Linked DNA regions of Homo sapiens. The protein of the gene in region 3 purifies or fractionates together with the protein of the main gene of each other region. This does not show direct contact. Each region holds a gene or a part of one and is shown on either strand. Other genes may lie near its edges. The genes, in order: BRK1, NCK2, NHSL3 and NCKAP1.

What was found.
Region 1: the proteins of NHSL3 (region 3) and BRK1 purify together in Homo sapiens (co-immunoprecipitation; 2 studies listed by BioGRID and IntAct, with this or other methods). This does not show direct contact.
Region 2: the proteins of NHSL3 (region 3) and NCK2 purify together in Homo sapiens (affinity purification with mass spectrometry; 4 studies listed by BioGRID and IntAct, with this or other methods). This does not show direct contact.
Region 4: the proteins of NHSL3 (region 3) and NCKAP1 purify together in Homo sapiens (affinity purification with mass spectrometry; 2 studies listed by BioGRID and IntAct, with this or other methods). This does not show direct contact.

Annotation. Positions count from the first base shown.
Region 1 is NC_000003.12:10,117,956-10,125,710, reverse strand, and holds part of BRK1 (protein BRICK1), read right to left. Parts: intron 86-7,755; coding exon 3-85; intron 1-2. UniProt on the Homo sapiens protein: Involved in regulation of actin and microtubule organization. Part of a WAVE complex that activates the Arp2/3 complex. As component of the WAVE1 complex, required for BDNF-NTRK2 endocytic trafficking and signaling from early endosomes.
Region 2 is NC_000002.12:105,739,916-105,748,271, reverse strand, and holds the start of NCK2 (cytoplasmic protein NCK2), read right to left. Parts: upstream 3,361-8,356; 5' UTR 3,134-3,360; intron 2,667-3,133; exon of another isoform or gene 1,933-2,666; intron 1-1,932. UniProt on the Homo sapiens protein: Adapter protein which associates with tyrosine-phosphorylated growth factor receptors or their cellular substrates. Maintains low levels of EIF2S1 phosphorylation by promoting its dephosphorylation by PP1.
Region 3 is NC_000001.11:32,737,279-32,745,359, reverse strand, and holds the start of NHSL3 (NHS-like protein 3), read right to left. Parts: upstream 3,531-8,081; 5' UTR 3,406-3,530; coding exon 3,171-3,405; intron 1-3,170. UniProt on the Homo sapiens protein: Able to directly activate the TNF-NFkappaB signaling pathway.
Region 4 is NC_000002.12:182,923,458-182,931,212, forward strand, and holds part of NCKAP1 (nck-associated protein 1), read right to left. Parts: intron 7,332-7,755; coding exon 7,238-7,331; intron 5,443-7,237; coding exon 5,326-5,442; intron 4,770-5,325; coding exon 4,660-4,769; intron 3,449-4,659; coding exon 3,359-3,448; intron 2,362-3,358; coding exon 2,245-2,361; 3' UTR 1-2,244. UniProt on the Homo sapiens protein: Part of the WAVE complex that regulates lamellipodia formation. The WAVE complex regulates actin filament reorganization via its interaction with the Arp2/3 complex. Actin remodeling activity is regulated by RAC1.

The DNA.
Region 1 (7,755 bases), on a different chromosome or scaffold from region 3:
ACCCGAGCTTCAATGTACTCTATTCTCCGTTCAAGGGCTGTCAATTTCTCGTTTAGTGTTGCAAGTCTTGAACGACAAGACATATCTGAGAAAAAGAGACTGGTGTTCAGGATTAATGTCACTCCAAACACAGACACAGACACACACAACACCTACAATGAAAAAGAGGAATAATACACAGAATACAAATGGAAATGGATACAGTGCTAAGATCCACTCATAGCACAGTTGCTTAGAGTGGATCTGCTGAACTTCCTATCAAGTGTTGCAAGTAGAGAATAACGGCCCCACAAAAACGTCCTTTCCTGCAGGGCACGGTGGCTCATGCCTGTAATCCTAGCACTTTGGGAGGACTAGGCGGGTGGATCACCTGAGGTCAAGAGTTCGGGACCAGCCTGGCCAACATCATGAAACCCTGTCTCTTACTAAAAATACAAAAATTAGCCAGGCATGATGGCACATGCCTGTAATCCCAGCTACTTAAGAGGCTGAGGCAGGAAAATCACTTGAACCGGGGGGGGCAAAGGTTGCAGTGAGCCAAGATCTCGCCACTTCACTCCAGCCTGGGTCAAACAGCAAAACTCTGTCTCAAAAAAAAGTCCTTTCTCTAATCCCTGGATCCTGTGAATATGGATTATACATGAGGAAACAGGGCTTTGCAGGTATGATTAAGGTTAAGAACCTTGAGATCCTAGAGTTTGTCTTGGATTGTCCATTTGGGCCCAATCTAATCATAGTCCACAAATGTAGGTGAGAAAGGCATAGGAAGGGGGTCAGAGATGAAATGGAAGAAGAAAAAGAGATTCCAAGTGTGAAGGGGATGCAATCTGCCATTGTTGGCTTTGAAAGTGGAAGAAGGGAGCCATGAACCAAGGGATGTAAGTGACCTTTAGAAGCTGGGAACAACTCTCAGCTCACAGCCAGCAACAAAACAGAGATCTCAGTCCTACAACCACGAGAAACTGAATTCTGCCAACAACCCAATATTCGAGGAACTAGACCCTCTCCTAGAGCCTCCAGAAAGGAAGGCAGTCCTGCTGAAACCCTGATTGGAGCCCAGGCCAGGAGCAGTGACTCATGCCTGTAATCCTAATACTTCAGAAGGCCAAGGTGTGAAGACTGCTGGCCAAGGTGTGAAGATTGCTAGCCCAGTGACCAGTGTTTGATTTATGACCTACACATGGTAAATAATAAATGTATGTGGTTTAAGCCACAAAATGTGTGGTAATTTGTTTTTTTGGTTTTTTTTTTTGAGATGGAGTCTCACTCTGTTTCCAGGCTGGAGTGCAGTGACGCAATCTTGGCTCACTGCCACCTCTGCCTCCCGGGTTCAAGCGATTCTCCTGCCTCAGCCTCCTAGGTAGCTGGGACTACAGGTGTGCGCCACCATGCCCAGCTAATTTTTTTTTTTTGTATTTTTAGTAGAGACGGGGTTTCACCATGTTGGCCAGGATTGTCTCAATCTCTTGTCCTCGTGATCCGCCCGCCTTGGCCTCCCAAAGTGCTGAGATTACAAGTGTGAGCCACTGTGCCCAGCCTGTGTGGTAATATGTTATGCCAGGAATAGCAAATGAATACACCAAGGCTGTACAGCCATTTACTAATGGCCTAACTAAGACTTTCAAGAGAGGGGACATGGCAAGAATAAGAAAATAATCTCAACAGGAAAGAAACGAGGCTGGGCGTGATGGCTCACGCCTGTAATCCCAGCACTTTGGGAAGCCAAGGTGGGCAGATCAACTGAGGTCAGAAGTTTGAGACCAGCCTGGCTAACATGGTGAAACCCCATCTCTACTAAAAATACAAAATTAGCTGGGTGTGGTGGCGGGTGCCTCTAGTCCCAGCTACTCGGGAGGCTGAGGCAGGAGAATCACTTGAACCTGGGAGGCGGAGGTTGCAGTGAGCTGGGATTGCACCACTGCACTGCAGCCTGGGTGACAGAGTGAGACTCCATCTCAAAAAAAAAAAAAAAAAAAAAGGCCAGGCACGGTGGCTCAGGCCTGTAATCCCAGCACTTTGTGAGGCCAAGGCAGTGGATCACGAGGTCAGGAGATGGAGACCATCCTGGCTAACACAATGAAACCCCGTCTCTATTAAAAATACAAAAAATTAGCCGGGTGTGGTGGCGGGCGCCTGTAATTCCAGCTATTCGGGAGGCTGAGGCAGAGAACTGCTTGAACCCGGGAGATGGAGGTAGCAGTGAGCCGAGATTGCACCACTGCACTCCAGCCTGGGAAACAGAGTGAGACTCCGTCTCAAAAAAAAAAAAAAAGGAAAGAAAGTAGAGGCCAAGAAAGCAGCAGAAATTATGGGGAGGGAAGGTGTGAGAGTTCTGAGCTCATTAAAGCCATGTCACTACTGTTGCTCCTAGAGGCAAAGGCCTTTCAGAACTAGAGAAAAGTTGGAGAGCATCAAATACCCGATAAAGCCCACATTCCATCTGTGAAAACAGCCAAAATTATTCTTCTTCCTCTAGCTTTTCCAATCTTCTTTTACCATCTCATTCAAAATGAAACCAGATTTAATTTAAAACAACTTTTTCTCTGCAAACTTCTGTAACAGGAACTATTCTTTTTCCAACTATTCTCAACATATGAGAGAAAAGGTATCTTAGCATGGTCATTATCTTCTACTCTCTCCTCCAACATTGTTGTTCAGTCATCTCTCAATAAACTTCAGTTTTCAAGTCTGAAATATTCGCTGAGACTCTCCCACGCAATGATTTAACACTTAGCTAACAAGTTTCCTTTTCATCTATTCCCTGGCTGTTTTGCAAAAGCGCTTCAGCATCCATTTTGACAAATCTTCCTACACCCTGATCTTGCCTCAACTTTCATCTTATTATGTCCAAATCTTACTCATCTTGCCTGCCTATCTCCTTCAAGGCTAAGTTCAAATTCTATCTCTGAGAGGTCTTGCCAGATGGACATAATAATTCTTCCTCTTCTGTATTTATCTAAACATTTACGGATGAATTTTTTTTTTTAAAAGAGACATGGTCTTGCTCTGTCACCCAGGCTAGAGTTCAGTGTTGCAATCATAGCTTACTGCACCCTCCAACTCCTAGGTTCAAGTGATCCTTCCACCTCAGCCTCCCGAGTAGCTGCAATTACTACTCAGTAGGTGGATGCCACTGTGCCTGGCTAATTTTTTTGTTTTTTGTTTTGGTAGATATGGGGGTCTCACTTTGTTGCCCAGGCTGATCTCAAACTCCTGAACTCAAGCAATCCACCTGCCTTGGCCTCTCAAAGTCCTAGGATTACAGGCGTGAGGCACCGTGCCAGCCTCTGAATTTCTAATTTGTAAGTTATTCATGTACTTGGTCTTTGGTTATGACTTCCCTCTTTGGATAAAGATTTTACAAATAAGAATGTGCATCACTACTATTTAAGATGGTGAAAAAGCAACAAAACCAAATGCCCATGATTGGAATGGTTTGATATAGCGTATTAATGAGACTATTAAAATAGCCATTGAAAGTTACAAGTGGCCAGGCGCGGTGGCTCATGCCTGTAATTCCAGCACTTTGGGAGGCCGAGGCGGGCGGATCACCTGAGGTCGGAGTTCAAGACAAACCTGACCAACATGGAGAAACCCCATACCTACTAAAAATACAAAAAAAAAAGAAATCCTGTCTCTACTAAAAATACAAAATTAGCTAAGCATGGTGGCGCACACCTGTAATCCCAGCTACTCTGGAGGCTGAGGCAGGAGAATGGTTTAAACCCAGGAGGCGGAGGTTGCAGAGAGTCAAGACTGCACCACTGCACTCCAGCCTGGGCAACAGAGCGAGACTCCATCTCAAAAAAAAAAAAAAAAAAAAAAAAAGTGGCCGGGTGCAGAGGCTCACGCCTGTAATCCCAGCACTTTGGGAAGCCGAGGTGGGTGGATCACCTGAGGCAGTGAGCCGAGATTGCACCATTGCACTCCAGCCTGGACAACAAGAGTGAAACTCTGTCTTAAAAAAAAAAAAAGTTTGAGGAATATTTAATGAAATAGGAAAATATTCATGTTACGAAACCAAATGATATTTATGTACTTGTAATTTACAATTTATTTACATGTCTGTTTCACCGTTAGAACAAGTTAATCAAAAGAAGTACATATTGCCTCTTGTAACCTTAGCATCTTGCCTGGTACATAGATGTTGACTGAAAAAAAAAAGATGGATTCTGGTATATTAGTGGAACAAAAGATTGACTCTAGTGTAACTCTATTCACCTTACAAGTGGGAAAACTGAGGTCTAGGTAAGCTGAGGGCCCATGTTGGGTCACTGGTATTCTTTCCCATACTGTGTGCATCCCAATGCACACTACTATCATCTTTCTGTGCCTCCGGGGCTATAATTTATACCCCAGGTCTCCAGCCCAACTCTGCCACTTTCCATTCTTTCACCTGCTTAAAGTATACAATTCAGTGGTTTTTAGTATACTTACAGAGTTGTGCAATAATTATAATCTACTTTTAGAATATTTTCATCATCCCCAAAAGATACCTTATACCTCTTAGTCCTGTCACTCCCCATTCTGTCACCCCTCAGTCCCTGGGAACCACTAATCTTTGTCTCTATGGATTTGCCATTTCTGGACATTCTTCATTCTTTTTACGCTTGTGCTGCTTGAATTCCCAGGTCTAGCTTAAGTATGATCACTTCAGCATCCCCCTTTTCCTGGATGTACTGCCACTTTCTGTCGGAACTGCCCAACAGGACCAAGCCTCTTTTCAGTCTGGTTTTTGGAAGTCTGAAAGCACGTTATGTATGCTACTGAGTAAGAGCATGAATATTATCTCTGACAACCTGCCATTTCCCATGAAGACATACGAAAATTATTGGGGGAGGTAGGAGAGAGGGAAGTTTCCTTCCTGGGTGGCTATTCTGTTCTAGCTGTCAATCTGGTAATGAATTAGAATTCAAGAACAATACTATGCTCCTGGCCTACATGGATAAACACTGTTGAGAAATAGAAAATGTTCAACTGCAGAAACCTTGGTCATATTTCAAATCCTAATAAGTATACGCTGGTTCAAATAAAAAACACTGAGAAAGCATTCAGCAGCTGGATAAATCTGAAACCAGAGCACAAGTATGTGTACATTATCACCAGCCTTTAACTGAAAATACCAGTTCTCGTTAGGAAACAAATGCTGTTATCAGACAGCTCCTTCTCTGAACTTAATGCATATAACTTCAGCATTACAAAAATCAATACTGTCAGGCCGGGCACGGTGGTTCACACCTGTAATCCCAGCACTTTGGGAGGCTGAGGTGGGCAGATCACTTGAGGTCAGGAGTTTGAGACCAGCCTGGCTAACATGGCAAAACCCCATCTCTACTACTAATACAAAAAGTAGCTGGGCATGGTTGTGTGTGCCTGTAATCCCAGCTATTTGGGAGGCTGAGGCAGGAGAATCAGTTGAACCCAAGAGGCAGAGGTTGCAGTGAGTCAAGATTGCACCACTGTACTCAAGCCTGGGCAACACAGCAAGACTCCATCTTAAAAAAAAAAAAAGAATTAGCCAGGCGTGGTGGCGCATGCCTGTAGTCCCAGCTACTCAGGAGGCTGAGGCAGAAGAATCGCTTGAACCCGGGAGGCGGAGGTTGCAGTGAGCCGAGATTGCACCACTGCACTCCAGCCTGGGCGACAGAATGAGACTCTGTCTCAAAAAAAAAACAAAAACTGTCTTTCTTTTGGAATGTTTTTGTAGTTAAGTCTTACTTTTCCAGCAAAATTCTGAATGTCTTAGGAGTGGGTATCATACCCATTTATTCATATTTATTCCTTTCTCACAGCATCTGACACACACCAGGCATGCTACATTTGTTGGCTCAGTACAAAAACCAAGATTTTAAAAAAACAGCCACATTCTCTATTTTGTCTTTATACTTCTCTGCATATATTACCTTTAGAACCAGAAAAAAATAGCATAAGAATAAAAAGCGATAATCTCTAACCATCTATTTTTAGAAACTTCACCAATTCCAAAGTGCAAAATAGGCCTAGTGTTATGATATTTTTGCTACATTACGATTTGTATGTCCTCAAGTTCACGTGGGAGACTGTGACTCTACTCTCACCAGCAGGAATCACAAGGTAAATGCTTTTCAGAAAGTCATTCACTATCTTAGAACAACAGTTCTCTCTCCAAAATACATGGCCCATGCAGATTCTCTGTGGTCAGGGTAAGGACTACAGAATTGCTAACATATTTGAAGAACTTCAGATGCTCCCTCAAAGTAAATTCTTTTTCTTTGAGAGAGAGTCTCACTCTGTCACCCAGGCTGGAGTACAGTGGCACGATCTTGGCTCACTGCAACCTTTGCCTCCAGGGTTCAAGTGATTCTCATGCCTCAGCCTCCCAGGTAGCTTGGAATTACAGGCATGAGACACCATGCCTGGCTAATTTTTGTATTTTTTATAGAGATGGGGTTTCGCCATATTGGCCAGGCTGGTCTCAAACTCCTGAGCTCAAGTGATTCACCTGCCTCGGCCTCCCAAAGTGCTGGGATTATAGGCATGAGCCACTGTGCCTGGCCTCAAAGTAAATTCTTTTTTTTTTTTTTTTTTGAGATGGAGTCTTGCTCTTTCGCCCAGGCAGGAGTGCAGTGGCGCGAGTGCAGAGCTTGCAGTGAGCCGAGATCGCACCACTGCACTCCAGGCAACAGAACAAGACTCCGTCTCAAAAAAACAAACAAAACAAACAAACAAAAAAAACCATTAGGAAAAGGAAATATATTTACTATTCATTAAATGGCAGTGGATCATCATAAAGGTCTTCATCCTCATTGTCTTCCTGCTGAGTAGGCTGAGGAAGAAGGGGAAGAAGAGAGGTTGGTTTTGCTACCTCATGGGTGGCAGAGGTGGAAGGGGAGGCAGGAGAGGTAGGCATACTGTATAACTTTTATCGCAATAAATCCACTTATGGCCAGGCACAGTGGCTCATGCCTGTAATCCCAGCACTTTGGGAGGTTGAACAGAGGTGGATCACTTGAGGCCAGGAGTTCAAGAGCAGCATGGCCAACATGGCGAATCCTGTCTCTACTAAAAATACAAATATTAGCCGGGCATGGTGGCACACACCTGTAGTCCCAGCTACTCAGGAAGCTAAGCCAAGAAAATCACTTGAACCTGGGAGATGGAGGTTGCAGTGAGCCGAGATCATGCCACTGCACTTCAGCCTAGGTGACAGAATGAAAATCTGTCTCAAAAAAAAAAATCTACCTGTAAATGGATCCATGCACTTCAAACATGTATTGTTCAAGGGACAATTGTACAAGCCTACTAATGGCTTAGGATGGGAAAAAAACATCCCATACATAGTCATCCTGACTCATTCAATACCAAGACAACATACTCAAGTCTATCCTTATAATTTAATTTATCCAGTTTCGCAGCCGGTGGGGTCTTTTTCTAAACTCTTGCATTGTGATAGTGTCAATCTTTTTTTTTTTTTTTTTTGGAGACAGAGTCTCGTCTTTTGCCCAAGCTGCAGTGCAGTGGCACGATCCCTGCTCACTGCAACCTCTGCCTCCCCGGTTCAAGCAATTCTCCTGCCTCAGCCTCCTGAGTAGCTGGGATTACAGGTGTGCAACACCATGCCCAGCTAATTTTGTATTTTTAGTAGAGACAGGGTTTCACCATGTTAGCCAGGCTGATCTCAAACTCGACCTCAGGTGATCTGCTCGCCTCAGCCTCCCCAAGTGCTGGGATTACAGGCATGAGCCACCATGCCAATCTTTAAGAACTTGCCTCAGG
Region 2 (8,356 bases), on a different chromosome or scaffold from region 3:
AAGAAGTAAGAGACGACCCTTGGGATGAGTAAGAACTCAGGACACGGAGGAGACTGAGCCAAGGAGTTGAGAGGGAACACAGAGGCTGGTCAGGGACAGTGACACCGTATGACATCACTGTGACACTGCTACCTCAATCAAAATAACTTTCATTTCCACAGTTTCAAGGACTAAGATTCTTGAGGTAGGAATGTATGTGCCAGTACACATGTGGATGTGTGTCACTGGGCAGAGGTAATACTTGCTAACGTTCATTTACCTTTAGAAATAAACATACTTTGGGAAATGTTCAAAGGAAAATGCAGGAAAAGAAAAGAGTCTAATTTTTTAATTGTGCTACTAAATGGCCTAAAGAAATGCAAAACTGTTTTTGCTTTAGCTGCACACTTTTGATAGCCCGTTAAAAGGCCGTCACGACCTTCTTCTGAGTTGCCTTAACTCAGGCATGGAACAAGATACACGAAATCACATTTTAGCTTAGGCCCTTTGAAAACGTGCCGTGAAGTATTTCCATCACTCATTTTAGGAAACAGAAACCATTTGGAAGTGCCACTCGCAAACCCTCTGGATGGGAAAACTAATTTCCTAAGCATCTGAAGTGAGCTGTAGGGAGTTTCCAGTTCATTTGTGAAAAAAGTTAGCTTACTTGTTTTTCCAAACATCACTCATCATCCTCCCCTGTAGTTCCAGCAAGCAATTCTGAGCTCTTCAGTCTTTAAGCCTCATTTTTAATGTCAGAGAATGATTTCCGCAAGCCCTGTCTCCCCCAGTGCACACGGCAAGCCAGTTTGAGCAGTTAGAAAAATGGGTGTCCCATAGAGCCTCGCAGCCTGGTCTATCCAGGGCAAACTAAGCTAGTGCAACTGATCAAGTAAAGGACTCCAGTGCATTCTGCGCCATTCCGGGAGTCTTAGGGTATTTTAAAAGGTTATCCAGTCTGTGCACATGCAAGGAAGATTTCCGGTGTATTTAATATGGATGGTAGTGCATTTCTCAAATATAGTACTGTGTACATAAGATCTGCTGTTTGTTGGAAAAGCTAAATAACCGAAAATGTAAATGACAAAGCCTGGGAATATGGCAGGGTCAAACAGAGCAAGGATGAAGAAGATTTAAGTATGCAGCGTGTCCTAAGCAAAACACAAAGCATGAAAACTGAGCACAGCCACCTGCAAGGCACCTTCAGCAAGCCCGACGGTTAACAGGGTCAGTTTCTCCACAAGTGGACAGAGGGGGTTATGCAGCAGCCAACTCTTCCTGATGGCAATTTGTGACCCAATTTCATCCAGTGTTTCATGACCAACCCCCCTGAATGTTTATGAAGCAGGAAAGAAGCTCAGAATCCAGGCGAGGCCTCCGGGACAGGAAGTGGGCCAGGCACCTCCACAGCTTCCTATGCCTAAAGTTCTCCATTTCAGCCTCAAGTAGCCGCCAGAAGACCACTAAGATTCCGCCACCTTCTCCAATCAAAACTACATCTAACCAACCTCCAGGGCAGAATATACTGAGGTAGGATTTTCCCTCGTGTTCACTTCTTCACAAGCAGGTTAACACTTGCTTCTCAGGAAACCCCTGTTCCAAACGTCAAAAAACCTCCATGTCTAGCCCAATCTCCAGGTGAAGTCAATTTCTTCTCCACGTGTCCGATGACTGCCATTCTCTTTACGTAAAACTCGCAAGGCTTGAATCCTGTTACTAATTCACCTGCTTATCTATGAAGCTTGCAAAGTGAATTGAGGGAGTGTTCACACGCACAGTTCCGTTTTGGTAAGTTAAAGCGGCCCAGGTTAATTTCATTTTCAGTCACTTTTGAGACTTGATAACTACATCTAAAACAGAGGCATGAAAAACACCCTGAATCACTTTCATTCCTACACAAAATCCCTTCCGAGAAGCGGGGACTGCGCCTGGGCCAGGAAGGGACTCCCCTACCTGTAGGTCCCAGCAAGCCACGCCCACCGGCCTCTCAGGGTTGTTTCTTTCTGGGTCGAGGGACGGAGCTGGCCCTTGCGATATTTTAGGCCCCCTCCTGCCCACACTGGGGCCTGCTCATCCCATTATGCAGATGCAAACTTGGCAGAAGCAGCCTTAAACCTGTTGGCAAAATAAACAAAGCCAAATAAAGAGGAATCTGCCAACCTGAATTGTGTGAAGTGGCCAAGGCCGACTCCACGCACGCTCGGCTTTGTCCCTGAAGCTGTTACAATACTAGTTTAAGTCAGGTGCCTGGGGTCCACCAGCCAATGACCCCTAGCATCCACCGCAGACCTTCACAGAGATCCCCATTGTCTACAAATTAAAGCGTTTTGCAAATTAAACCCCTCCACACAATGCCAAGCTAACTGTGCTCATAAGGCAGTTACCCTCCATGCCTTAAAACTCACATATCAAATTTTTCCAAAAGCACTCGGTGATTAAATCGCCCTGAAAAAAACCGAGAGAGCCGAGCGATTGTGAGAAACTTTGGTTCATTCAGGTGGCTGTTAGAGTCCTGTAAATCTGGGGCAGGGCGCAGAGCCTGAAGCCGGGCACAAAAGCTCCCTTCGCCGAAGCGAGGACCTCCTTTATGCAATGTGACAGCAGCTTTGTGCGCGAACATAAATAGTTGTAATAAACACGGTTAAGTTCTCCCGGCCGATCGCGGCCTCCCCCGTCCCTGCGCCGGGGCCCTGCGATCCGCGGCTATTCTTCCCCGGCACACGCGCCCTGGCGACCCTGGCCACCGCACGGTCCCACGCTAGCCCCGAGCTCCGTGCCGGCCGCCCGCCTGCAGGCCAGGCGCAGCCTGCGCACCCGGGGGTCTCCAGTCCCCGGGCCCCGCAGCCGGGCCCCCTGCCCTGATCCTCGCCCGCGCCCTTGGCTGGCGTCCCCGCCCCTGGGCCGGCCCCCGATGGTGGGGGTTAGGGATGGGAAGGCGGGCAGGAAGGTGCAGAGCCGGGAGGTGCCCGGCAGTCCGCGGTCGGGGGCGCCCAGGCCGCGGCAGGGCCGAGAGCACCGGAGGGGCGCGGAGGGGACCCGCTCTCCTGGCCCCTTCCCGGGCGCACCCCGGCCCGCGAGCCCCGCCGCGCTCCCAACTCCGCCCAACGGCCCCAAGTTTGTGGCCCCCGCCCCACGCCCGCCTAGCCGCGCTTACCTCGCCGTGGGCCGCCCGCGGAGCCGGAGGGCAGCGGCGCGGGTCCCGGGGCGGTGGCCGCGCTGCGCCCGCCCAGGCGCCGCTCTTTGTCTGCGCCGCTCCCTCCTCCCGCCGCCGGGCGGACGCTGCCGGCCCGGGCGGACCCTGCCGGCCCGGGCGCCGCGAGCCTCCCGGCCGCCAAGCCCTCCCCTCCGCCCGCCGCCCGCTCGGCCGCGCGGCTCCGGCCTGACGATCCCCGCGGCAGCGGCGGCGGCGGCGGCGGCGGCGGCGGCGACCCTCCCCCGGCGCGCAGCGCCCGCCTCCTCCGCGCTCTTCCTCCTCCTCCCGCGCTCCTCCCCGGCCGCGCCGTGACGCCGCCCAGGGGCCGGCCCAGGCCCGGGCGCGCGGGGCGGGGACCCGAGACCCACCTGGGGCGCCCCCCGTCGTCGCCAGGCTCCGCGCCCGGGTCCCGGTACGGGCGCCGGGATAGCGCGGGGCTGCGGGACGCTCCGCTCTGGAGGCGCAGCACGGGCCGGGCGCCGGGGGCAGGAAAGGGTCCCCACGCCCGAAATTGCGTGCGGGCGGTGGGGGGCAGGGTAGGTGGGTGGGGAGGAGAGTGAAAACACAGACGGCAACTTCCAGCCTGGGATGACTGCCGGGTGGGCTTTGCGTCCTCTTTTTTGTTTGTTCGTTGTTCTTATCACGAAGCTCTAGTTGCTGGGCAGCCGCCCCCCTCCCGGAAGCATTCCCACGGCACTCAGCTAAGCAGGCCTGTTGTCCATCAGAAAAGTGACTTAAATAAAAATGTCACTTCCTCCCTGTAATTGCTTGTGGGCATTTTTATTTATTTGCTTTGCATCTATTTACTTTCCCAACCAGACACATTTTTAGTCCATCATCCCTGTCCGAGGCACTTCCTAAAAGAAGAAGAAACTCGACCTCTGTTGCCTCCCAGGCATCCAGGCCAGCCCCAGCCTGTGGAATCCTGGTTGCACACCCGTGGGGGCAGAACCCGAAGAGGAGCTGCCCGAATGTGCCCCTAGAAGGAGTGTCGCTAATGATGGGACCGTTCAGCTCACCCAGCCTCGAGTTGTGGCTAGCCTATAAACAAACTTGGAAGATGAAAACCCAAGAGCAAGGGGAAAGACACAAGTTTCCCTTTCACAGACACATGCATCCGGATGTCTTTTCTCCTCCCCATATGGTTTCCCAAAGGAAATCCTAATATTCAAATGATTCTGATTTCCTGGCAGGATAGCCTGCATCCATGTTAATGAGATTCTTTCTTAGGCTCCTGGTCTCTGCTTACTATTAAGGCAATAATAATTTACCCAAGGTTACAAGGCTGTATTATTTGATTCACTCATCTCCTGCTTCCTTCCAGAAGGGAAGTACCCAAGGATAGGTAACTAGAGTCAGCGTAGCTTTGAAGTCAGACAGGTGAGTGTTTGACTGTTGACTTCCTGAACTGTGTAACGTTGCACAGGTGGTCCTCAGCCTTTCTAAAATCTGTCATATGGGGAGATAATATTTACTTACCTCCTATGTGAAGTACCCTGGCAGTAGGTAGCCCTCAATAGCTCAGTAAGTGGAAGGAAGCACAGTACACTGAGCAGGAATCAGGTACAAGCTCAGGGAATCAGAACAGCCTCATTTTTCCTTGTTTTGACCTTGTGAAAGAAGCTACTTCAGTTCATCCTTTTGTGCAAGTTTTGTGTTACTAATATCTAGCTTTACAATAAGAAAAGAAGAATTCTAGTCATCAGTCTGCCCAATTTTAGATTAATTTACTCAAAATAAGTATAGCAATATTGACCCAGTTTGTAGCTTGTTTGCTTTGTAAACTTTCACTGAATCGTGGTTCTTGCATGCCTCTTCTTTCTCTGATTCTTTAGAAGTCACCGATGTCATTCTCTATCTAAATCCAGTGGCCCTTTATCAATCTTTATCCTGTGGAGTTTTCTGAAATATGTGGCATTTCTGCTATTTCCTGAAACACCATCATCTTTTCATTCATCAAACACAGCCAGTTCTGATTCTCTTACCTTTCTGACCTGCCCATCTGCCTCCTCTAGAGAGGTTGTTGTCTTCCCACCCTGTAAAAGTGATATCCCCAAGGCAGATGGTGGCCCTTTGTTTTTATTCTGATACGCACCTTTTTTTTTTAAAGAGAGAGTTGATTGTTTTTTGTACACTCCCTGTCTAAACCTTCATTGATTAACCCCCAGACCTGTAGCCTTAGAGAGCTCCCCTGCTAATCTGCAGAGCTCCCCAGCTAATCTGCACCCCCTAAACATGGCGCAGCATCTCTTCTAGGTCACCATGTTCAAAATGAAACTCATCTGCTCCCCAGACCAGCTCCTCCTCCCATGGTTTCAGGCCTGGCCAAGAGTCTACCAGGCACCTCAGCTCCTGGGAGAAATCTCATTGTTATCTTGGCTTTTCCTTCCCTCTCTCCGAGTTCTCCCCAAGAAAAGCTGGGAGAGCGCTGAATGACACCAAGACCCCTTGCAGACTACCCCCATGGTTCTGAGTCCTGGTGATTCTTAAACATCTTTTCCACTGCACCTTTCTTTCCATTTCCATCACTGGCATCCTAACTTATACATCATTCTAGCAATAGTTATAATGTACCTTGATTGAATTCTTGACATATATCATCTCTAATCCACACACAATAGTATTATACCCATTTTACAGATGAAATCACTTGAACAGTGGATCAAAGAACTGGGGTCAGAGCATGTACCTGACTCCAAAACTCTTGTTCAATTCCCCACAACTACTGCCTTCCAACTGGTCTCCCATTACTTCCTTCTTAAATCCCTCAGACTCACACTGGACATCAATGTCATCCTAACCTTCCTGTAAATTGTTTCCATTTGTCCCTGGTTGTGCTCAAGAACTTCTCATGGCTCCCCATTGCCCACCACAGTCTCCTCAAAAGTTATCTGATGACTGAAGACTGAGCATTTTCCCCCAGAGAGGCTGGGGTATTTAGCCCTTAGAGGCCTGTGTTCGTTTCCTGGGGCTGCCTTAACAAATGACCCCAAACTAGGTGACAAAACAGAGGTTATTTTCTCAAAGTTCTGGAGTTCAGAAGTCTGATATCAAGACACCAGCCTCTCTCCAAAGTCTGTAGAGAACAATCCTTCCCTGCCTCTTCCAGCTTCTGGTGGCTGCAGACATTCCTTGGCTTGTGGCAGTGTCACTCCCACCTCTGCCTCTCTGTCTTCACACAACCTGGTTCCCTGTGTCCTTTCCCTTCTCTCTTTTTGTAAAGACAAGTATCATTGAATTTAGGGCTCACTCTAATCCAGCATGATGTCATCTCGACATCCTTATCTTACAACATCTGCAAAGACCTTTTTTCCAAATAAGGTCGCGTTCTCGGCTTCCAGGTGAACATATCTTTTGGGGCCAACATCCAACCCACTGCAAGGCTTAACATGGGGGAGACATTTCTTTGAAGCTTATGTTTTATCTAAAAATATATAGGTTTTTCTGCATTCTACTCCATTAATGTGTCCACATCTGTTTTACTGTCTTCAATCACAAAGTATTGAAAGCATAAAAAACATGGAGTGGAAGGAGGTGCAGTAAACTTTTGCCTAAAATCACATCAGCATTACATCTTATGATCTCTCTTCCAAAGGCCTCTCCAACTTAGCCCTGCCATACAATCTCCTTTTTACCTCTGTCCAGTATAAGCTGTTTGCTTCAGTCACTCAGCTCTGCCCACAGTGCCACATTGAGTCACACTAGTTTCAGCCTTCTGTGGTGTGAAGGCAGCTAGGAATTCCCTGTCCCCGTCCTTCTCTTTCAGAGCTCCATTCAAGGCCTTCTCTAACCCCTCCTTAGACTCACGGAAAACACAAAGCAAGGTTGAGGGTGTTGTCCAAGTCATACGTCAGAGGCTCAAAGCCTACCTTGGAGCCTGTGCCTTGGGGTCATTTCACCTCTCTGAGCCTCAGATATTAATAGTGCTCTTGCAAAGCGTTGTGAGAATTAAAGGAGATAATATAAACATGTCTCAACTGTGTGTTCAGCACATGGTAAACACTCATGTCTCCTTTCTCATGACCTTCTCTTGTAACCCTCAATTCAATTAAGCATATCTGGTGTAGTTCTATTTGTAAGGCATTATAAGATCCACTTCAGGATTCATTCATTTGGTGCAGACACCAAAGAACACCTGGATGTGCAAAGAGCAGATATAAGATTGCATTATTCAGAGAGGTTATAACGCAAACTGGAGTGGAGTGAAAGGATGGGAAAATAGTTTAGGAGAAATGGAGAGGAAAGACCCAAAAGGAAGGATGAAACCAGCATACAAATAACTATAATATAAAACTAAATATGAACAGTACCAAAGAAAATATGTCTAGAGAATCAGGAGAAGCTTTAGGCTTTATGAAAGGTGGTGGCATTGGCAATGACCTTGAGAGATTACATGGTGGGAAGCTGCCTTTAATTTGGCTGCCCCCCTCTCTAGCCCCTTCCTGGTTTTAGAGAAGCCTGTCTGAACCCTGGAGGGAGGCAGAGTAGGCACCTTGGTCCCTCCATTCCCAGAAGCCCTGTGAGAGTGAACAGCCTGGGATTGGCCAATGGAACCCTCCCACTCAAGACTGTGAAACTGGAGAGGGTGAAAAGGACAAGAGAGGGTGAGATTCAATTTGCCATGGCTGAAATAGTCCCAGCACATCCCTCCCACAGGAATTAGCCAGCTCCATTCTCACCCCTTCTGCTCTCCAGTTCCCCTGTGAGCTACTTGATATTCTTCTAGTAAATTCTCCTATTCTGCTTAAGGTACCCAGAGGCACTTCCTCTTTTTGGAACCCAAACCCCTGAATAATGCAAATGGTAGGATTTTGAAAGGTGGAGATAGACAGGGAGAAAATTCCCAGCGGCAGGAGTTCAGAACTCTGAGGCAGACAGGGGGACGTGGGAGGACCCTGTAGGGACAGAGAATGGCCCACTTGCCTAAATGGAGCAGAGGCTGCACAGAGCGGATCGCGAGGCCAAGAAGGAAAGCAGTTAAGTGTGGACATCATCTGGGCTCAGCCCAGGAACACTCATTTGGTGCATGCACGGAAGGACAGCTGGAGACAGGAAGAGCAGACAAAAGTTCGCATTTCCAAGAGAGTTCATAACCCCAACTGGGGTGGAATGAGTAGATGGGAAAGTGTTTTAGGAGAAATGGAAGGGGAGGCTCAAAATGAATTGGCAGCTGCTTGGATGTGG
Region 3 (8,081 bases):
TCTTAAACTCGCGACCTCATGACCCACCCACCTCAAACTCCCAAAGTGCTGGGATTACAGGTGTGAGCCACCACGCCCAGTCAAGCAAAGTTGTTCTTAGGCCCAGAGCCCATTCCTTCCAGACTGGGTCGTTAGAGCTCAGGTGACTAAACTTATAAACACAGGCATAGCAACCCCTTGCATTTCTATGGTTACTTCTCTTTAATATAATTTTCTTTTTTTTTTCTTTTTTTTTTTTCTGAGTCTCGCTCTGTTGCCCAGGCTGGAGTGCAGCGGTGCAATCTTGGCTAACTGCAACCTCCGCCTCCCGAGTTCAAGCAATTCTCTTGCCTCAGCCTTCCGGGTAGCTGGGACTACAGGTGCACGCCACCTTGTCTGGCAAATTTTTTGTATTTTAGTAGAGACGGGGTTTCACCGTGTTGCCCAGGCTGGTCTCGAACTCCTGAGCTCAGGCAATCTGCCCGCCTCGGTCTCCCAAAATACTAGGATTACAGGCATGAGCCACCACGCCCAGCCTTTAATATAATTTTCATATGCTCTCTTGTGAGAATCTTGGTGAGACAGAAAGGTCACAGCCCATCAAGGCAATGTCCAGCCAGAGGATTCCCCCTTTCTTCCCCACAAGACAGTGGTGGAATCAGGGAGCCCACTGAGAAGTTGCTCATCCTACATCATGGGGCTTGCTAGTAGCTGGGCCAGGATTTAAACTCTCATTGGCCTGATTCTGATACTCTCCCCACTCTATCAAGTTCCCTCACTTCTCTCTCTGGGCCATTTCCCATCTGTAAAGTGAGTTGAACAAGAAGATCTTCAAGCCTTACCTGCTGCTCTATGTCCTTGGGAGAGTCATGAAAACAGTCCCGATTTTTGAGGCAGGTGATTTGAGTTTAAATCCGTTTGGTCAAATCAGTCACTCACTGTCCCTGAGCCTCAATTTTTTCATCTGCAAGTAAGATCTTGACATATTCAGACTAATCAATAAATGTCAGACTTCCTCTCTTCTTCTAAGTTTGTGCAGGGTAGTGAGGTCAGCAAGGGAATCATGGAAGACTGGTGCTCAAAACTCCATGACAAGCTCAGTTTTTCCATCTTAAAGTAGGAGAGTCAGATTAGAGGAATCAAGACCTGCCTCTCATAGGTCTTTGAGCCAGAGATTGGAATGGAGGAGATAATGACTTCCCCAGCAAAGATCCCTGACCTCCCAGGAATCTCCTGTGTATCCCTCCTCCCCACCTCTCCCAATCTCCATTCTGAACATTCTCCCTGAAAGAGTTAAGCCTTCTGCAGGCTTCCCGTTCCTGGCCAGCGTTGCCAGTGGAGATTAGTGGGATCAGATTTATTTCTCTTAATAAACAGAAAAGAAGTTGGGCCAGGCAGGTGACAAGGAAACAGTTGCAATAATAGGAGGCTGGAGTAAAAGGGAACAGGACTTCCTCCAGTCATACCCAGGGCCACCTCCAGACCTGGAGAAACAACAGCCAGGGGCAAGGAGGTGTTACCCATGCACGTGGGCTCAAATCAGGCCGACATGCTGCCCAGAAAGCCCAGAGCCACCTGATACCAAACACAAGGCAAGAGGGAGGCCTGGCCACTGACCCAATGAACCCAAACCCAGGCTGTTGGAGCAGTGACCTACAGGCTCAGCTTTTCCAGCCCCCTGCCTTCCAGGCTGGTCTCCCAGAGGAAAAAGGTCCATTGCCCTGGAGTATACACTGCTAGTCCACTAGCCTTCTGCCTGCCAATCCTGACAGTCTGACCACAATACATCCTGCTGCAATGCCCTCTTGAATGAGACGGGGATGACTTCAGACTGAATCCCAGTGGGGCAGCCCTGGGACAGACTCCATGTCCTGTTAGGACTGCAGAGGCTTTGGAAACACCCCTCACCCAAATCCAGTCCTCCCTCAGGGTTTGGCCCAGTCACCCCAGCCCCAGCACCCTCACTTCTATGTGTGGCTGTGCCGCAGGGAAGCAGGGCCCTTATCCAAAAGGAAGATCAAGCCGGATACAATCACACATGAGGCTTTCCACCCTCTTCCTGACCCCTAAAGTGTTCCTTCTAACTCTCCCAGAAGAGGTGGTTAAAGGACACTGGGAGGGTAAACACAGGCAGAATGGGATGGGCCCGCACACCCAGCCATTTCCTCACCTCCAGCACTGCAGCAGCAGTCTAGGAAAGGTGGACTTCCCAGGACAGCAAGCCCCAAGGGAGCTCCACCCTCTTGCAAAGACTCAAGCCCTCCCCATCAAAAGGAAGACAGAAACTGGAAAATGAGGGAAGGCCCAAGAAAGGAACTGAAAATGACCCCAGCAGGGATGGGCCAGGTCGGCTTCCCCGCCTTTCAGGCTGCCCGTCCAGGCCAGAGGAGGAGCCCAGGGACTCAAATTCAGAAAGACTGAGAATTAGCTGTTGAATTTTAAGTACCCACCCCAGCCCAGGTACAGCCTCTCCACTGAGCTTGGGCCTCAGTTTCCCCCATCTGTAAGCACACTTCCGACACTGGCATGTTTCTCCAGGGCTGGAAGAAGGAGTGATAGGGAGGGGCGGGTTGGTTCACCTTGGTGAGCTCACTACCCCAGGAGGTGATGTTTGTGGCCTGGCCCAGGTGAGCGTTGAGGGAGGCCAGGTGGGAAAAGCCAGCACTGTTAAGAAGCTAAGGCAGGGCACACTGTGCTCCATGTGAGGTCCTTTGTGGGGCTGGAAATCCAGATCCAGCTGGAGCTGAAACTCTTTGTGAGTGCGGTTGACCTTCCAGACCCAGAGGGTCCCCACCAGAGACCCAAGGCCACCTGTCTCTCCCATTGGCCACAGGCCAGCGTTAAGTCTCTGACCCCCTGACTCAGCAGAGGGCAGAACCTCGGTGAGCCTGGGGGAGGGGGAATCGCCTCACCGCCCTGGAGTCGGGCTACCAGCACTTCCTGCTCTGCCAGGGGATCCCTGCCCCAGCCGGGGGTCCCCTCCCCTCACAGCGGGGCAGGACTGGGTCTGGAAACTGCGGAAGGCAGCGCAGGGTGGAAGTGTTCGGACTCAGCCCTGGCCTCTTCGCTTTCCAGCACCAGCTCCTGGGGGTCACCCCCCTCCAACACGCCGCGCGCGGACCCCCGGCAGAGCCCCCTCGGCCGCACCCTCGACGCCCCCCCGCGCTCAGCCCAGGTGCCGACCGCCTTACCTCGGCCTTTGCCCTTGGCCCTCTTGGCCTTGTCCTCCGCCTTCTTGGCCCGGGGGGCGGCCGGTTCGGCGCCCTCGGCCCCCGCCGCCTTCTTCTTGCGCCGCTTGCCCCGCAGCCAGCTGAAGGCGCGGCGGAGGCCGGACGCGCCGGAGCGGGACTTCTTCCTGCGCGGGGGGCCGCCCGGGTTCCCCGGCTCCTCGGCCGCAGGTGCGGCGGGGGGCGCGCGGGCCGCCATGGCAGGCGGGGGCGGAGCGGGCGGCGGGTCAGGCCCCCTGCGGCGCGGTGCCCATGCCGGGGGCGGCCGCCGGGGACGCGCGCCCGGAGAAAAGTTTGGGCGGCGGAGGCCGAGCGGGCGCGGAGAGCGGACGGCGGGAGCGGCGCGGGAGGGGCCGGCCGAGCGGCGGGCGGGGCGCAGGCCGGCGGGGAGGGAAGGAGCGGGGCGGGAGCGGCCGCAGGGCGGGAGCGCCGCTGCCTGCGGCCCCTCCCCGCCTCCCCCGGTCCCGGCGGAGGGCGAGGTCCAGTCCCGAGAGGAGGGGGTCCCGGGAGCCCGGGGTCGTGCCCCCCGCTGGGGCCCGAGAGGGCGGGTCGTGGGGCCGCCCGGGAGGGGGCGGCACTGAGGTTCCGTCCCGCAGGGGGCACCGCGGGAGATCTGTTCGGAAGAGGGTGGTATGGGGTGGGGACGGAAAGGGGAAGGGCGCAGGAAAGGAGGAGCGAGAGGCTGGGGTTGGACCCCAGGAGACTTGGTATCCCAAGTTTGGGCTGGGAATAGACAGGGGATTCTGGAATATTTTTTCCTGGAATAAGGGAATTTGGAGAATTCCTTCCAAGCCCCGACAGTGTTGGGGCGCTTGCGCCAGGAATAGAGGCTTCAGACACGTCCAAGACCTGTGACCCGCAGTGGGCATTTCCCTCCCATCTGCTGACTGGGGTCGCCTCCTCGCTCTTTACCACACCTTCCAGGCTCCAACCATCTTCGGTGTGCAGCGGGGGCCCAGGTCCACTGTGTTCCTGCCTCACCCTTTGGTGGCAAGATGAGGATAGCCCTTCCTCCGTTTACCCTTGGACTAGGATTTGAGGCCCCAGGGCACTCCTGCCTGGACCAGGAGTTCCCACTGAGATGCTCAACACTAATTAGGGTTGAACTCTGGGCAGGTGAGAGGTGTGACTGGGAGGCTGGTAGGAAAGGAAACATTAAGAATCCTGAAATTGCTGTACTCATTGCCTACAGGCCTCTGGGTCTATTACAGCTGACCAAGCCCTTTTATATCATCTGATCCCACGACAACGGAAATGGAGGCCAGAAGGGGACAGAGGTGGTCAGCGGGAGAGGAGCCAAGATGGTCATCTGGGTTTTGTCTCAGGCTGGTCCAAGGCTTCAAACCCTAAGGACTAGAAATTGCGCTGGGGACCAGCTGTGGGTTCAGCACCCTTGAACCTCCTCCGTCAGTCCCCAGAAGGGCCTTGTGATGTCCATACCAGTGGGGTGGCCAGAATCACCCAATCTGACTCTGGTCACACGGCTTTCTCTTGGTCCTGGTCTCCACGAGGGCAGGGGCCCATTTGTCTGGGCCACCCAGCCCAGTCAGCCCCGGCGCACTGTAGATAGCACTCACCATAACATTGCAGGATTACTAGAGTGCAGTGGGATCTCCCTAACCTGCCTTAGCCCCCTGCATGTCCCCAGGGGCTCAGCTGTGGTGAACCTGGGACATCATTGACACTCTCCCACCTGGGGGCCCTGGGGCAGACCACCCAGTGTCCATGCTGGGCCTCAGTTTCTTGTCTAACCACCATTCATTCAGATCCAGCCCACAATCCCAGAGCACCCATTCTGGATCAGGAACCAGCCCTGTACTCTGGGTGCTCTTGGCCCAGCCTAGCACTCCTAAGAACCCAGCCTCTTCCTCTGTTAGTTGGTGAGGAAAGGGAATGTAGAGAATGCAGTTTTCAAGAGAAAAGTGTTACAGGTGCCAGGCATGGTGGCTCAGGCCTGTATTCCCAGCACTTTGGGAGGCCCAGGCAAATGGATCACCTGAGGTCAGGAGTTTAAGACCAGCCAGACCAACATGGTGAAACCCGGTCTCTACTAAATACAAAAACTTAGCTGGGTGTGGTGGTGCATGCCTGTAGTCCCAGCTACTTGGGAGACTAAGGCAGGCGAATTGCTTGAACCCGGTAGGCGGAGGTTGCAGTGAGCCAAAATTGCACCATTGCACTCCAGCCTGGGTGACAGAGCGAGACTCTGTCTCAAAAAAAAAAAAAAAAAAAAAAAAAAAAAACTTATTAAGAATTTCAAGGCCTGCCACAGTGGCTCATGTCTGTAATCCCAACACTTTGGAAGGCCAAGGTGGGAGGATTGCTTGAGCCTAGGAGTTCGAGACCAGCCTTGGGCAACATGGTAAGAGCTCATCTCTCCAAAAAAAAAATTGTTTTTCATTAGCCAGGTGTGGTGACAAGTGCCTGTGGTCCTAGCTACTCACTCGGGAGGCTGAGGTGGGAGGATCCCTTGAGCCCAGGAGGTCAAGGCTATAGTGAGCCATGTTCGCGCCACTGAACTGCAGCCTGCGAAACAGAGTGAAATCTTGTCTTTTTGTTGTTGTTGTTGTTTGTTTGTTTGTTTGTTTGAGACTGAGTCTTGCTCTGTCGCCCAGGCTGGAGTGCAGTGGCACAATCTCGGTTCACTGTAACCTCCACCTCCCGGGTTCAAGCGATTCTCCTGCCTCAGCCTCCTGAGTAGCTGGGACTACAGGCGCCCGCCACCACGCCTGGCTAATTTTTGTATTTTTAGTAGAGACGGGGTTTCGCCATATTGGTCAGGCTGGTCTCGAACTCCTGACCTCAGGTGACCCACGCGCCTCGGCCTCCCAAAGTGCTGGGATTACAGGCGTGAGCCACTGTGCCTGGCCTGACTTTGTCTTTTAAAAAAAGAATTTCAAGAGGCAATAGCAGGCCGGGCAAGGTGACTCACGCCTGTAGTCCTGGCACTTTGGGAAGCCGAGGCAGGTGGATCACAAGGTCAGGAGTTTGAGACCAGCCTGGCCAACATAGTGAAACCCCGTCTCTACTAAAAATACAAAAATTAGCCAGGCAAGGTGGCAAGCGCCTGTAATCCCAGATACTCGAGAGGCTGAGGCAGGAGAATCACTTGAACCCAGGAGGCGGAGTTTGCAGTGAGCCAAGATCACGCCATTGCACTCCAGCCCCGGTGACAGTGTGAGACTCCATCTCAAAAAAAAAAAAAAAAAAAATTAGCCAGGCTTGCTGGCAGGCGCCTATAATCCCAGCTACTCAGGAAGCTGCGGCAGGAGAATCACTTGAACCCGGGAGGTGGAGGTTGCAGTGAGCCGAGATCATGCCATTGCACTCCAGCCTGGGCGACGAGTAAAACTCCGTCTCAATAAAATAAATAAAAATACAAAAAAACTAGCAAGGCATGGTGGTGCTTGTCTGTGGTCCCAGCTGCTCGGGAGGCTGAGGCAGGAGAAACGCTTGAACCCAGAAGGCAGAGGTTATAGTGAGCCGAGATGGTGCCACTGCACTCCAGGCTGGAAAATAAGAACAAAACTCCGTCTCAAAAATAAAAATGCCGGGCACGGTGGCTCACGTCTGTAATTCCAGTACTTTGGGAGGCCAAAGAGGGCGGATCATGAGGTCAGGAGATCGAGACCACCCTGGCCAACATGGTAAAACCCCGTCTCAACTAAAAATACAAAAATTAGGCCAGGTGCAGTGGCTCACACCTGTAATCCCCGCACTTTGGGAGGCTGAGGCAGGCGGATCACCTGAGGTCGGGAGCTCGAGACCAGCCTGACCAACATGGAGAAACCCTGTCTCTACTAAAAATACAAAAATTAGCCAGACATAGTGGCGCATGCCTGTAGTCCCAGCTACTCTGGAGGCTGAGCAGGAGAATCGCTTGAACCTGGGAGGTAGAGGTTGCAGTGAGCCTAGATCGTGCCATTGCCCTCCAGCCTGGGCAACAAGAGCGAAACTCCATCCCAAAAAAAAAAAAAAATACAAAAATTAGCCGGGCATAGTGGCGGGTGCCTGTAATCCCATCTACCTGGGAGGCTGAGGCAGAGAATTGCTTGAACCCGGGAGGTGGAGGTTGCAGTGAGCCGAGACTGTGCCACTGCACTCCAGCCTGGGCGACAGAGCAAGATTCTGTCTCAAAAAAAAAGAGGCAACAGCAAAACATTCAACCAAGCACAGAGCCTTTCTGAGCATGGGCTATGCATAACTACACAGTTTGCATGCCTCTGAAGATAGCCCTGCCAGTGTCTCATATAATTCCTCAGGGAAATTCCCCTCAAACTAGAATTTCCAGGAATCAACCCACAGATTGGATCCTCTGATTTGCAGGTAGGGAGAGGAAGAAGGGAAATGAGGAGAGTTCAGGGTTATATTCCCTTCACTGCTCCTGACTCCAGCACCCAGAGACTCTCACTTCTCATCCCCAGCCCGGACCACCTTCAGACCAGCAGGCCCAGCTCTCCCTCTTGCCCCCTGGCCTAAAGGACAGACATGCTTCTGAGCCACCCAGGGAGGGCTAGCCTAGGAAGAGCTAGCCTGTGTCTCAGCTGTAGCTGGATCCGGCTCCCTGGAATAATGATTGCTCAGCTCAGCTACATGTCTTTGCTGGCCTTGCAGGCAGCGGAGGGAGCTGACTTCCCAGCAGTCCCTGTGGATAGGGCCCAAAGTTCAACCTGGAGCCAGGCTGTCACCTGACCAGGAAGGAAACTTCCAGCCTGTCCCCAGGGAGGAACCAGCAAAAACCAGGCTTGGGGCAGCATCCTAAGGGCCCTCCAACTTTGCCCCTCTGTTTGGGGAAAGCCCAGGACCACCCTGATGTTGCCCTCACACACACCAATCCCCCTTTCCACTTGGGAGACCTGCCTTCCACAGGAGCCA
Region 4 (7,755 bases), on a different chromosome or scaffold from region 3:
TGTCAGGGTTTTGCCATGTTGGCCAGGCTGGTGTTGAACTCCTGACCTCAAGTGATCCATCCGCCTTGGCCTCCCAAAGTGCTGAAATAGGCGTGTGCCACTACGCCTGGCCATGAAATTGTTAAATTAGTTATGGTATCTATAAAGGTATTAAAAAGAATATTAAAGACATTTTTTCTACTACTGAGTGAAATAAGCAGATTACAGGCCAGTATGTATGGTATGATCACATTAATGTAGAGAAAACAACAAAAATAGTATGTTGTTGTGTAAGTTTAGAAGAAAATAAAACAAACAAGATATTAAAAATAGTAGTTGTCAATTTACTTTTAACTTTTTCCTCCAAGTTACCTTTGCCACGCCTCCTCCCCCGCCTTTGCTGTATGAGAAAAAATTTGGACAAAAACTTCAGGTGACTATGAGGAGCGATTTTTTTCTCAGCCTAGCAGTGGTAGAGAATGCCTTATTTTCATCCTTATGCCCTTTCACATATGATTCCAAAGTGTACATATCCAAATTCCTACTTTACCTCTCCAGAGATCACTGCCAACAAAGTTATTACCTCTCTAAGATCCTAATATTTCAAAACAAACGGCATTAAATCTTAGTTTTGACTGCTCACTGTGTAAATCAGACTATTTCAGGTCTGAACTATGCCATTTTAAAATTTCCCTTTTTAAAAAATCTTTATGGAACAAGTACAATTTTTCGACAGATAGTGACAACTACTCCCTACTTTAAATATAGGCTGGACAAATCATACACAAAATAATAGCATAATCTCATAGTACTTCAATTTCATTCTACTCTCTATGTTTGAAGAAAGAAAAACATTATAACTGAGTTCACAGCAGCCTTCTTTTATCTTAACACAAGTTACCAGTGTATACATAAGAAGCTGTGAACAGAAGCTCTTTATGATATTCATATACAAAGCTGCTGAGAAACAGCCTCAACAATGCCAATCAAAGAGCAAAACATTGGGTTAGTTTTCAAACTAAATGAGCTGCTTTGCCCTCCATGCCAACTATTAAGCAATAGGCCCTTTTATGTCTTTCCCATTCATTACTGACTAATGCAGCAGTTCTCAACATTCTCACTAGTCCCATGATCACTCAATTTTTTTTCCCTATTCTTTTAAATAACTCTATTTGGTTACAGATAAAATGAGCAAGTTGACAGCATACAAGTTTTCTTTAAGTTCTTAATTTTTAAGAAGTATTGTGTAATTTTATTTTCTAATTTTGGTATTTTTTTCAATAAAATGTTTTTTAAAACATTTAAACAAATCATATAATAGCTGACCTGGTATCGAATGCTGTACTTAGACATTCCTAAACCATTATTTTTTATATTTCAAACTAAGTTTAAACAAAAACTTTATTATTATTGAACGAATATCCAAGGATCTTAAAGAAATCAATCGAAGTGTGATACAGTCTAGTGTTTATTTTATGTTATGGCAGGTACACTTGAATTTCAAAAATTTAAAACATATATAAAAAGTGGTTAGGGACTAACATTTGTATCAACAGTTGATAAATGTCTAAGATTGTTTATTATACAGCAGGGTACAATGGTAGTGCTAATGCCAACAGGGCACCATGGAAGTTAGTCTAAAAATTATCGCTAGGCTTTATACAAGCAACAACATATGCTGCTGCTCTTAGAATTTTGGGAAATGATCTGCTTCTAATACTAAGCAGTTCTTTAACATTTTTAAATGTTATACAGTGTTACAGTATTTAGTTTGGCAAATGTTTCAAAATAAAGTAGAAATGTATTCATAACATCACAGAAATGCACATCCAATGTTGTTTTCAATAAGAACCATAGGTACAGATCAGAACTCTTCCCTATATGAAATAATTTACACACAGATGAATACTATAATATCACTATCTAAAATAATCACTAAATACAGTTCTTTTTCAGAAATAAACAAGCAAAGATTTTTTTCATTATCAAATATCAAAAACATGTTGATAATGTATGTTTTTCAAATAAATGATACTTTAAAATTATAGGAATAATCTCAGTGAATTCAGTGAATGTGCAACCTAAATCAACCAAGTATACTGTAGTACAACCATATTAAGAAACCAATGATCAGAAAATACAACCGTATGAAAGAAATTTATAATCCACAAAACTTTTTCAGGTCTTAAGGTAAAATAGTTCCACAGTCTACAGGTAAAACCAAGGCAACAAAAATGCGTGCTTATCTTGATTAAGTAGGTAATTTTATGCAGAAGATGTAACACTTTGTTTGTAGACAGCATGGTATGCATTTCTCAGCAAGACATAAGGAAAACAAGATTCCAAAAGATCCATTGTAAGGAATGGAGATTCTTGTACAATCTGTAAAATTCAAAAAATCCATCAAAACAAGTTATTTATAACTTGTTTATAAACAAAAATCATAAGTTATTTATAATGGGAACATTTATTGACAACCAGTAAGGCATAACTTCTATATTGTTCTTATTAGCAATAGACACATATTATTTTCCTTTTACTTAATCTAAAATGTAAATGTGCCACAGTGAATGTATATCAAACTGTTTAAAAAGAGCTACTTTTCAATTAAATTTATTTAATCAACAGGAATATATTGAGCACTTTCATTTTCCTCACTGATATACTAGAAATAAAAGACAATACAAAAATATTTTTTTTTTGTACTATCAACTCTACCTGGCAATCAAAGACTAAGCTAGGAAGCAAAACCAAACATAAGACCGACTATAATGAAATGGAAAGCTGTAAATTCTGTAAGAATTCAAAACAGAAGAAAGATTAATGTAGGCCAAAGTAATCAAGAAAGACTATCTGGAAAAAGATTTGAGCTGTGGGATGTGCTAAGTCATTAGGATAAATCCAATTTCTGCAGGTAAGGAAAATAACTCTAAGTGGGGAAAGAGCCACGTGGTAGAAACAAGCAAGAGCTGGTTCACAGATACTGCAGAGAGGGAAGTGACTAGGCACAGAGAATTACAGAAAATTACGAGAAATGGGCAGAATAGAGTTAGAATGTAGAAAACTCAGAAAACTGGAAGAGAGGTGACACCAATACACTAGAAAAATACAAGGCCTGAGTGTTTTCCAACAGGTTGAAAAACTGTTCATAAAAGAATACCCACAGTTAATGCTAACCTTTGATTGTTATCTTCTGATATTACCGAAATGATAAAATATGAGTGATGTCAGTCTTCTCTGCAAATTTTAGAAAGGTGTGGCTTACGTGAAGTGAACAAAAGGGATCAAAAAAAGTATTCAATGACTAAGATGCCAAGAAAAGATTCTCAGGAACGACTGGAACTTTTTTATTGTTAGTAAAAATTAAAATGAGACTTACCATATCTAGCAGTAAATAAACAGATTCTCTATTTCTTGTTGTAGTTTTATCTGTCTCCTGGCCAATTTTCAGTAGACTGGAGGATGCAAGCTTAAAAGTATACATACACATAAAGTGAGTTTGTTAATAAAAGGTTCATCGGTTACTTATTTTAGGTATGTTTCAACTTCCAACACATTTCAATCATTCAGTGCTAAATATAAAATAATGAGCAATTAAATAAGATGAGCTTAGATAGCCTACATTCAAGCAGTAATTTAGAGAGTAATTAAGGCACAAAGAGACACTAACATAATAAATGTAATCAAATATTCTTATTGGTCTTTAAAACTGATTTTTTCAGAACAAGTCTGCTTTTTAAAATGATTCAAATTATTTTCTCTTATCCCATCCCATTATCTATACTGACTATATTTCTTAGTTCCCAAGGAAGAAGACAGTTTCACACTGGATTTGACTTCACAGAAACACTGTAAGATTAAGACATTAAACCCTGAGTGAAGGAATTATTTGCAAATGGAAAGAAACACTTAAAATTTTTAATAGTGTTTTCCTTGAAATAGAAGTTATTTTCTCCTCAAGTTAGTACTATATTTGCATTTGTAATTTAAAAATTATTTTTTAAAAAAGCTGACAGGATTTATAACTGAAAAAGAAGTAAATGTTCTAGAGTTCAGTATGCCATGGTATATCTTTCGTTTAAATAAAATATGGAAAAGGTTATATTAATAAAGAAAAGAAAGAACTACATTGATAGAGAAACTAAAAACCATGTTTCATGAGGCTACATTTAGCACTCCTCTCTCTTGGTAGTGAGTAGTATTTTTAATGATGAATTTTTCACCATTAATTGTCTTTCTCCAAAGAAATGGAAAAAAGTAAAATATGTCTTTTTAGAGGGAATAGCTTCTCTCTTGGCCTCAATTTTCCTTTGCTTTTTTTCTCTTTCAAGCCTAGGAAAATTTCTAGGGCAGTCCAAACATCAGCTTGGGGAAAAAAGGTCATATTGCAGAGCTCTAGAGTTGGGAAAGAGACTTCCGAGTCTAAGGGAAATAACGGACGGCTCCTCGATTTTAATGCCCCACCTTCACCTGTTTCTCCCTCCAAAAAAGAAAATAAACAAATAAAAATAAAAGGAGACTGAAATTCATATACCTGAGAAAATAATTTGAAAACAAAATGCCATTAGAGGACACTAAATAAAATGTAAAAATAAAGAGAATTTATTCTTACATTTTGTGGTTGTGAATTTTAGTTTTCTTTATAAAATGTGATGAGTTTTGTTATTTGATTATACATACCGCCAGAAATTCTTTAAGACGGTCTTCAATGCTTCCTTTGTGAATTGTAAACAAAGCTGCAGCAATCTGGTTGATGGCTTTGGCCAAGCAATGTATGTTGTTGCAATGCCCTGAGAAAATGCAAATAGGGTTGTGTAGACCCCAAAATAGCAAATAATACATAGAAGGCAAATCTTTAATGACTTCACAATCTGCATAAATAGGGGCATAATTAAGAGTAGAGTTGGGACATGACCGGACTTGCTCTCCTTTGACTTTCATGAACACTGATGTTTTTAAAACTAGTTTAACAGGAGAGTAACAAACGATCGTGTATATGTTAAACAGGCAAACACTTCTGAAAACATCTAAAAGAAATCACACATCAGTTTTATAGTAGCTCGGAAATAAAAAGGAAGTGCTTAGCTGCTTTACAACATTTTACCATTCAATCCTTAAAATAATCCTATGAGTTGGATAATCCCTCACCGACCTCTACACACATTCAGGCACACATGAGCTTACTTACACACATTTCATATATCAGGAAACTGCAGTTTAGGAAAAGGGAAACAGACTACCCCATGTTCCACTGCCAGTTAGTGGCAGAACTTAACTCATATTTTATTATAAAATACCAAAACCCATGATTTATTCATCGCCAAAACAATTTTAAACCACTATTACCTTCTATAGCAGGGCTGTACTGAGACATCACATTACTGGCCAGTGTTGGCAAAGAAACTGCCACAAACACCATGAGAAGGCAGGCAATTTTATACTCTTCTTCTGGACTAATGTTTTCTAAGAGACAAAAATTAAGAATAAAATCAAGGTATTTCTTCAAGATTAGTTAAGATTTGATAATCTAAACTAAACAGATTTTTATTTTAAAAATGGTTTACTTTTTTTTTTGAAATAGTAAACTATTTTACTAGCATTCTATAGAATTGGTCACAATTTTGTTATAAAAATATAAAGTAGAAACAGTTTATATTACAATGGACTATTATCAACTACTTAGGCATATTTCAAGGACGTCTGATAAAACAGTAAGGTAAGATTTTATTTTTTTTAATTGTAAGATTATAGAACAAAAAATACAGTTAGGATAACTGCAATCCTACAATTTCCTAATTGAAAACTAATGAGGAATTATTACTTTATGAGACAGTTCTATTTACAATTTAGAAAACTTATAAATTATTCTGCAAAATCACCAAAAAAATCTTAATTACTTTTTGAAAGAGATATGAATATAATTTGAAATTTACTATTTAAAAGACATAAATGTGGAAAGTGGAATGGGTTTTCAACCTCTCTATTTTAGAAGACAGAAGAAACTAGTCATGAATAAAAGAAGACAGAAGAAGACAGAAGAAACTAGTCATGAATAAAAATACCCAGCATTGCTCTAAAGCTTTCAAGACATAACCCTTTCTAAAACATTTATTGTGATATGCACTCAAATTGTGGGTTATTTAGGCTACTAATCACCATTAGATATAATTAAGAATTGAATGTAAGAAAAGAGCTGAAATATGTTTTAAAGATTTGGTCGACTACAAAAAATACAGCTGTAGCAAATCAAGTAATAATTATAATTATCCATGTGACTAAATGTAACATACTGTATGAATGAGGAAACAAAATTGCATTGTTAAATGAAAAAAAAAAAAAAACTGATGAACTCAAACACCATGCTGCTGCCTCAAGGAGGCAGAAGGGGCATTTTAGTAGTAGAAAGAGATGAAATGCTATATTTACTTTGTAGACAAATCAAGAAATATCTACAGGATTCTGAGTACTGCATTTCTAAGGGCTGGTCTTAAAAATTTCTAAATGTTTTATATAAAACTCTTGATGGTGAATAACTCTAGTACAATAAAAACAGAATACCCTTTCCTAGATCTCAATTTTTTGCTATCTACTGGACCATCTCCCATTAGCATACAAATGCTGTAATCTCCTCCATCTTAAAAAAATCCTTCTCTTGACTTTGCTCTTGCCTCCAGCTGGTGAGATTTTATTTCTTTGCTTCCCTTTACAATAGAACTCTTTGAGTTGTCTTCTAGTTATCTCCAAATCCTTTCCTCCTGTTCTCCCTTAATCTCCCTTACTCACTACTCAGCCTTTTGCCCATAAAACCTCACTGACACTGATCTTGTTAGTACCACCAATTAACTCTACATAGCTGATCATTTCCTTTCTATCTTCCTGGAAGCTACCCTTTCCTGGTTTTTCTTCTACTTCATTGGTCCTTTCTTCTCAATTTCTCTAAATTTCTTTTTTCGTGGTTTTTCCTTTTCTCCCTGAGCTCTTAAATCTTAGAATGGCTCAAGGCTCAGACCTGGATCCTCTTCACTGCTGCATCTATATACACTAAATGGCTCAGTAATCTCAACCAATCTTAAGTTCCAGAAGGGTGATGTTTGTGTTTTATGCACTGATATAGTCCAAGTACCAGCAATAATAATAACAAATTTAAAAAGCTGAACACAAAGCAGGCATTTGAATATATGGTTAAATATCATACCTATACCTATGCTGCCCTGGTAACTTTAACTAAGAGTATTAAATATTTACTAATGCATTTTACCCGATTTTTGTGAAGAAAGAGCTACGACCAATGCAGGATCAATCTCACAAGGTAATCCGGCAGCTGATGATAACTCATACACATTCATTGCAACCTGATAAAAACAAAAGAATTACAGAGCAATAAATAGTCTAACAAATTTCTGAGAAAGCTCACTGTTTATTAGAGTCTGCCTAGAAGAACACCAGAGAATTTCGGAAACTTGGCTGAAGCAGAAACTACAGCAAAACTAAGTATACTGAACAACTGATTCAATGTAGGTTGAATACTGTGAGGTGCTGCTGGTTCTAACTTCCTACTGCTAGGCCAAACAAAACTTGTATACTTTCTGTGGCACATTCCAACAGGATAATTCTAAAGTTATCACTTTGCTTGGAAGCATGAATATAAAATATCAAGTCAGAAAAGATGAATAAATGAACAAAGTGAATCAATATTACTAGACCTGTGTTTATCTCCATAGTGGTTTAATGAAAAATTATAGTGGTTCAATGTCTAATCATATCGTATCTATAAAT